Homo sapiens: one gene and its partner. Changing the gene in region 1 together with any one later gene gives a genetic interaction. Each region holds a gene or a part of one and is shown in the gene's direction. Other genes may lie near its edges.

Region 1 (3,653 bases):
TGGAGAATGTTTGATCTAATTAGAATTACAAGATGAATGAGAAATGCCTTTATGTATTTTAAAGATTATCATGTGGAAAATGACATCAACCTGCTCTGTATAGCTACAGAGAACAAAATAGGAATCATGTATGGAAGTTGAAAGAGTTTGTGTATTACAAGAAGACAACTATGAATAATTAAAGCCATTAACAGTGGAAAGATTGCCCTGTGAGACAGCAAGCCCCTTATACAGATTATGTAAAAACAGAGATTGTGTCAGGTTCGTTAAAAATGAGGTTTTCGCATTGGGTAGAAAGTTGGACTGGACCTCTGATACCTCTTTCAGCTCTTAAGGGAGTGATTTTTATGATAAATTGTGATTTGGAAAGGCTTAATGGAAAAACAGTTCCAGTATAATAAGTATAATAAAATAATAATAATTTCAAATTGTTGAGATTAGTGAAAGAAAAAATTGGGTATGGATAGGAAAAAAGTTTGCCCATTCAATTAAAAGGGAAAACATCAAGTTAATACCAATATGAGATGAAACTTAAAGACTGGACTTCACTGTCCATCTGAATTTCTCAGTAACCCTTTGTAGTTATTGTCAGGTTGACTGAACACCTTTACTACTTCCTATTACCCTCTCTCTTCTTCAGCATTTTCTCTTCAGCCCTGACCTCAATGCCCCTTCACTCATCTTTTTATTCTTGTTTCTTCCAATTCAGAATGCAGGAATTGTGGTGTATTTTAGCTCACATGAAAGGGATTATGAAGTCTAATTATAATAACTCTTTGTAAGTTACTATAGTAAGACATGTTAATAAAGCAAAGTAAATATGCTTTTCTAGAAGTTACAATTTTCAGATTTTTTGTATTGTTTTACTATAGAGTAACTTAGATACATTATTATAGTTAACTTAGATACATTATTATAGAGTTAACTTAGATGCATTATTTGCATCTGAGATGGTCTTTACTAATGATCATGCTCACCAGTGAATTTTAATGTTCTCCAGATCACTGTGCAGAAATACCCACAGAAGTTCAACTGAAGATGATGACTCATCTTCAGGAGAAGAAATGGAATGGAGTGATAACAGTTTGCTTCTAGCCAGTCTTTCTATACCTCAGTTAGATGGAACTGCAGATGAAAATAGTGGTAAGTAAACAAGTCTACTGTGAGAAATTGGTTATTCACGATCTAAAAATGTATTTGATTTTGAGGCTAGGCGCTCTGGCTCACACCTGTAATCCCAGCATTCTGGGAGTCCAAGGTGAGAGGATCACTTGAATTCAGGAGTTCGAGACCAGCCTAGGCAACGTAGTGGGACCCCCGTCTCTAAAAAACTAAAAAAATTAGCCCAGCATAGTGATACATGCCTGTAGTCCCAGCTACTCAGGAGGCTGAGGTGGGAGGCTTACTTGAGCCCAAGGGTTTGAGGCTGCAGTGAGCTGTGATTGCTCCATGGCATTCCAGCCTAGGCAACAGAACAAGATTCTGCCTCCAAAAAAAATAATAAATAAATAAATATGATTTTGAAACTTTAATCATACTTTCTATTGATTTTGAAACTGTAATCATACTTTCTATATAGTTGGCTAAGGGAGGCTATAGTGATGTTTCGTCCTTCAGGATTTTTTTCTTTTGAAAGAATTAGATACATGATTTGCTTCTCATTTCTAAAAGGATATAACATTTGTTGACCACTGAATTCAAGCTTTGAAAACTTTAATGTTTGTTGTGCAAGTAGAATAATAAACTGAAAAATATGCTCAGTTTATTTGAAGTGATAATGTAAAGCATATTATTTTATGAACATTTTTAAAGTGACAGTATTTTTCCCTTATGCCCCAAAGGAACTAAATAGTAATATAATCTATTTCTGATCAATGGAATATTTGTTTAAAATGATGACTAATAATTGTAACTAACTATATTTAGATTGAGTCATTAATGATAAGCATTACCTTTTTGTTAAGATAACCAAACTTAATTTGATGTAATTTTTTCATAGTGATAGCATTAATATCTTGGTGTGGGAAAATGTCTTAAAAATTAAAAGAGTAAAATGAAATAAACTGTTTTTCCCTCCTCATTTCAGACAATCCATTGAACAATGAAAATTCTAGAACCCACTCTTCTGTAATTGCAACAAGCAAGCTTTCAGTTAAACCCTCCATCTTTCACAAAGATGCTGCTACATTAGAACCCTCATCTTCTGCTAAGATTACCTTTCAGTGTAAACACACAAGTGCCCTTTCTTCCCATGTTTTGAACAAGGAAGATTTAATTGAAGACCTTTCACAGACAAACAAAAATACAGAAAAAGGTCTAGATAACTCAGTCACTTCTTTTACAAACGAAAGCACTTATTCTATGAAATACCCTGGATCTTTAAGCAGTACTGTTCATTCAGAAAATTCTCATAAAGAGAATAGTAAGAAAGAGATCCTCCCAGTATCTTCCTGTGAAAGTAGTATTTTTGATTATGAAGAAGATATTCCATCTGTTACAAGACAAGTACCAAGTAGAAAATATACAAACATTAGAAAAATCGAAAAGGATTCCCCTTTTATACATATGCACCGTCACCCTAACGAGAATACATTGGGCAAAAATTCTTTCAACTTTTCTGACTTAAATCATTCAAAAAATAAAGTATCCTCTGAAGGAAATGAAAAAGGAAACAGCACAGCTCTGAGTAGTTTATTCCCTTCATCATTTACTGAAAATTGTGAATTACTGTCATGCTCAGGGGAGAATAGAACTATGGTGCATTCTCTTAATAGCACTGCTGATGAAAGTGGACTAAATAAACTTAAAATTAGGTATGAAGAATTTCAAGAACATAAAACAGAAAAGCCAAGCCTCAGCCAGCAAGCAGCACACTATATGTTTTTTCCCAGTGTTGTTCTTTCTAACTGTCTTACTAGACCACAGAAACTATCTCCTGTCACATATAAATTACAACCTGGCAATAAACCATCCCGGTTAAAATTGAATAAAAGGAAACTTGCAGGTCATCAGGAGACTTCTACCAAAAGTAGTGAGACTGGATCCACAAAAGATAATTTTATACAAAATAATCCTTGTAATAGTAATCCTGAGAAGGATAATGCATTGGCTAGTGATTTAACTAAAACCACTCGTGGAGCTTTTGAAAATAAAACACCCACAGATGGTTTTATAGACTGTCACTTTGGAGATGGAACGTTAGAAACTGAGCAGTCCTTTGGACTATATGGAAATAAATACACACTTAGAGCCAAACGCAAGGTAAATTATGAGACTGAAGACAGTGAGTCAAGTTTTGTAACTCACAACTCAAAAATTAGTCTACCTCATCCCATGGAAATTGGTGAAAGTTTAGATGGAACTCTCAAATCCCGAAAACGAAGAAAAATGTCTAAAAAGCTGCCCCCTGTCATCATAAAGTATATTATTATTAATAGATTTAGAGGGAGAAAAAATATGCTTGTGAAGCTAGGAAAAATAGACTCTAAAGAAAAACAAGTAATATTAACAGAAGAAAAAATGGAACTATATAAAAAGCTTGCACCTTTGAAGGACTTTTGGCCAAAAGTTCCCGACTCCCCTGCAACCAAATATCCCATTTATCCACTAACACCAAAGAAAAGTCACAGAAGAAAGTCAAAACATAAATCTGC
Region 2 (3,753 bases), on another chromosome or scaffold:
GTCAGGCTGGTCTCGAACTCGTGACCTCGTGATCCACCTGCCTGAGCCTCCCAAAGCGCTGGGATTACAGGTGGGAGCCACTGAGCCTGGCCTTAAATTTAATCTTCATTAACATTTTCACTGTCACTTTCTTAAGTGCAGAGACAATCAGCAATAAGTGTAAACCTGCTTCGTAGCATTTGATCATTTCCCTGGTGTAAATACTCCAAAAGTGGCTGATTTCAAGCAATCAACATGACATACTGAAGGCAGAGTTGGGAAAATGTGCAGTAACACACCACTAAATAATATTTCCGCATACAGATACAATAGACATAAATAACCTTAAAAGCACAGATAATGATAAAACATAATAAAATAATTAGAAAATGAAGAGTTTTGAGATTTGTACCCTTTGTTTTTAATATAATCTTATTGTAAGTTTATGTAGTAAGACTTTTAATAATAGCAGTGTTTAATTTTTCTGCTAATTATATTCCTGAAATTTTAGCAACCAGTTACCATCAGTTGGCGCTAGCACACCACCGACTGCAGGCTTTACTGATGAGGAAACTGAGGCTCGGAGAGGCTGTCACGAACTTGCTGTAGTCACACAGGAAGTACTACCTAGGTTGCTCTAATTCCAAACCTTCTCCCTTCCATATGCCTCTCTTTAAAACATAACTGATCTACCTATATGTCAGCACCCAAACATCTTAGTGTGAATGGATTTATAGTTTGTTGAATAAAGTCATTGCTTTCCGGTAGGTGGGATGGGAAATCTGACTAGGCGAAAGAATAGGATGAAGGGAAAAAGAACATCTACTTAACAGTTCAGGATACGGCAGGATATTTTCTCTCCTGGGATTTGGGCAAGCCAAGATTTAACAACCAGCAATTGCCCAGCAACTGATAGAACTGGTAGAACATTCATTGTTTTTTTAAACGTTTGCCATTCAGTATTCCTTTTCACACATTTTCACTGTGTTAAACGAAAACGTTAAGACTTATCTCAGCAGCCACAGCAAAGAGCAAGTACTAACAATCAAGTGAGTTTCCAGGAGAAAAAAAACAAAGTTATCCCTCAATGCAAATACAACTCGGCCAAAGGTGTGGCCCATCCCTCTCCGCTCCACTATTTTCAAATAAGCCACCTCTGCCTTCATGGACTGCGAGCTAGTGACTCTAGGCTGTGACACCACTGCATCCCAGCTTCAAATCTCCCCTTGCAGGCAGTTTGTGGGGGAAATAATAAAATTAGCATCCTAACACTACAAGTCGTGAGACCGCTCAGGAACAATCCTAATTTGCATACTGGAACTCCTGTAGAAGATACTTTGAACCGCTTTAGATACAATAGGATCAGGTAAAACGGCGCTGCCTTGCCAGCCACTGCAGGTTTTCACCTGACACAGCCCCCAGACCCTGTCTACGAATCCCCCAGCTGGCCGAAGGGGCCGCGGCCGCACATGCGCAGTCAGTCCCGTTGGTTGTGCGCTCAGCCCCGCCCCCAGAGGCGCCGCGCTCCCTGACAGCCCGCGGGCGTACACACGCTGACGCGCAGGCTGCGGTCGCGCAGGCGCAGTCGGGGCGCCTTCCCGGTATAGGCGCCTTTTACCCCAGCGTGTCCTGAGTCTTTGGTTCGCGAAGTGCCGTTAGGCCAAGCAGGTGCTAAAAGCCCGGGGTCGTGGACCCCGGCCAGGTCTTAGCAGCATGGAGGCGCAGGGTGTAGCGGAGGGCGCGGGGCCGGGCGCCGCCAGCGGCGTGCCCCACCCCGCGGCCCTAGCCCCGGCTGCGGCTCCCACCTTGGCGCCAGCCTCGGTGGCGGCCGCGGCCTCTCAATTCACCCTGCTAGTGATGCAACCCTGTGCTGGGCAGGACGAGGCTGCGGCCCCCGGGGGCAGCGTTGGGGCGGGCAAGCCCGTTAGGTACCTGTGCGAAGGGGCCGGGGATGGCGAAGAGGAGGCTGGGGAGGACGAGGCGGACCTGTTAGACACTTCGGACCCTCCGGGGGGAGGCGAGAGCGCGGCTAGTTTGGAGGATCTAGAGGACGAGGAGACTCACTCGGGGGGCGAGGGCAGCAGCGGGGGCGCCCGGAGGCGGGGCAGCGGTGGGGGCAGCATGAGCAAGACCTGCACCTACGAAGGCTGCAGCGAGACCACGAGCCAGGTGGCCAAGCAGCGCAAACCGTGGATGTGCAAGAAACACCGCAACAAGATGTACAAGGACAAGTATAAAAAGAAGAAGAGCGACCAGGCCCTGAACTGCGGTGGGACTGCCTCGACTGGCAGCGCGGGAAACGTCAAACTCGAGGTATCAGACTTAGCTGAGGCCTGGGGATGGGAGGTGGAAGAAGAAACCCGATCTTAACGCAAACCGCATCTGCAGGGCCTGCCTCCCCACTTCCAAATGGGCCGGTTTGCAGTGACTGGGTTAGTGGTTGAGAATTAGAGTGTTTGCCCTAAATTAAAGTTTATACCAACATGTGCAAAGCAATAACAGTTCTGTTGAACTCATGATAGGTGCAGAAATTTCAGTAAAAATAATGTGACATCGGCAGAGCTGTCATAGATCTGGGATATGGCTGGAAGGACATAGAGTAAATGATCGGTCTGGTTCATCGCTAAAGGAGACTTAGGAACCTAGATGAAGTTGGTACTTCTGAGAAAGTCATCTCTTTCTGTTTTCACTACTCTATTCTCAGTATCCAGTTCTCAGTACCCAGTTCTCAGTACCTCTATTTGTAATACTCCTGTATTTAGTACTTTGTTTTTAGTGTCCTGTTCTGTTAACCCTCTTCCTAGTACCGTATTTTTAGTACTGCTATACTCAGTTGCCTGTCTGTAGTACCCCTGTACGTAGTACTCTTTTCTTACAACTCTGTTCCCAGTACCCCTATGTTTAGTCCCTTGTTCTCATGTTCTCACTACCCCAATACTTAATATACTTTGTTCTCAGTATCCTTGTTGTTAGTACCCTGTTCTCACTACCCCTTTTCTTAGTACCCCTGAGGGGGGAAAAAAAGGATGATAATGGGGTATAAGTCTCAAAAAACTTTTGGATTGTTTGATTTGAACTGAGTCAAAGGTAAAACCAGTGTTCTGGAGTTCGACTTCTGGGTGCAAATCCCTGTTGCATCATTTACTGGCCTTGTGGCTTGAATAGGTTATTAAACTCTGTAAAATGGGCATTAAAATCGTGTGTCATTCATAGTGTTGCTGTGAATATGTGAGCCATTCCATATTGAGGGTTCACACAGTGTCCAGCAACTGGCTAAAGTTTGCAAACCTTACCCATTATTATTGTCATTGTTAGTGGTATACTTTGAGGCTGTCACAAATAAGCAGATATTTCTTCTTGTGAGAGCTATATAATCCCTTAGTGTAGAGAAAAATTTAATTTTGTTACAAGTGATCCAAGCCAGGTATGGTGGCAAGTGCCTGTATACCCAGCTGTACTTGGGAGGGTGAAGTGGGAAGATTGCTTGAGACCAGGGGTTCGAGGCTGCCGTGAGCCTTGTTTGCATCACTGCATTCCAGCCTGGATGACATAGCAAGACCCTGTCTCCTTAAAAAAAAAAAAAAAAAAAAAAAAAAAATTTTTTTTAACTGCAAGCTGTCTTAGGGTCCTAGGATGTATTCTAAGTCTTTAAATTTCTTAGTTTCAGGCTGAACTTGAAGTGCTCCATCACTAAAATATTAGACCTTGTAATTGTTTACAAATGTAATGTTCTAGGCCAGGCTCAGTGGCTAATACCTGTAAGCCCAGAACTTG

The links. Genes that interact genetically often act in the same process or in processes that back each other up.
Region 2: changes in REV3L (region 1) and RFXAP impair growth when combined (synthetic growth defect), as found in Homo sapiens cells (one large-scale study listed by BioGRID).

Annotation. Positions count from the first base shown.
Region 1 is NC_000006.12:111,375,191-111,378,843, reverse strand, and holds part of REV3L (DNA polymerase zeta catalytic subunit), read left to right. Parts: intron 1-1,000; coding exon 1,001-1,143; intron 1,144-2,086; coding exon 2,087-3,653. UniProt on the Homo sapiens protein: Catalytic subunit of the DNA polymerase zeta complex, an error-prone polymerase specialized in translesion DNA synthesis (TLS). Lacks an intrinsic 3'-5' exonuclease activity and thus has no proofreading function.
Region 2 is NC_000013.11:36,817,666-36,821,418, forward strand, and holds the start of RFXAP (regulatory factor X-associated protein), read left to right. Parts: upstream 1-1,556; 5' UTR 1,557-1,692; coding exon 1,693-2,292; intron 2,293-3,753. UniProt on the Homo sapiens protein: Part of the RFX complex that binds to the X-box of MHC II promoters.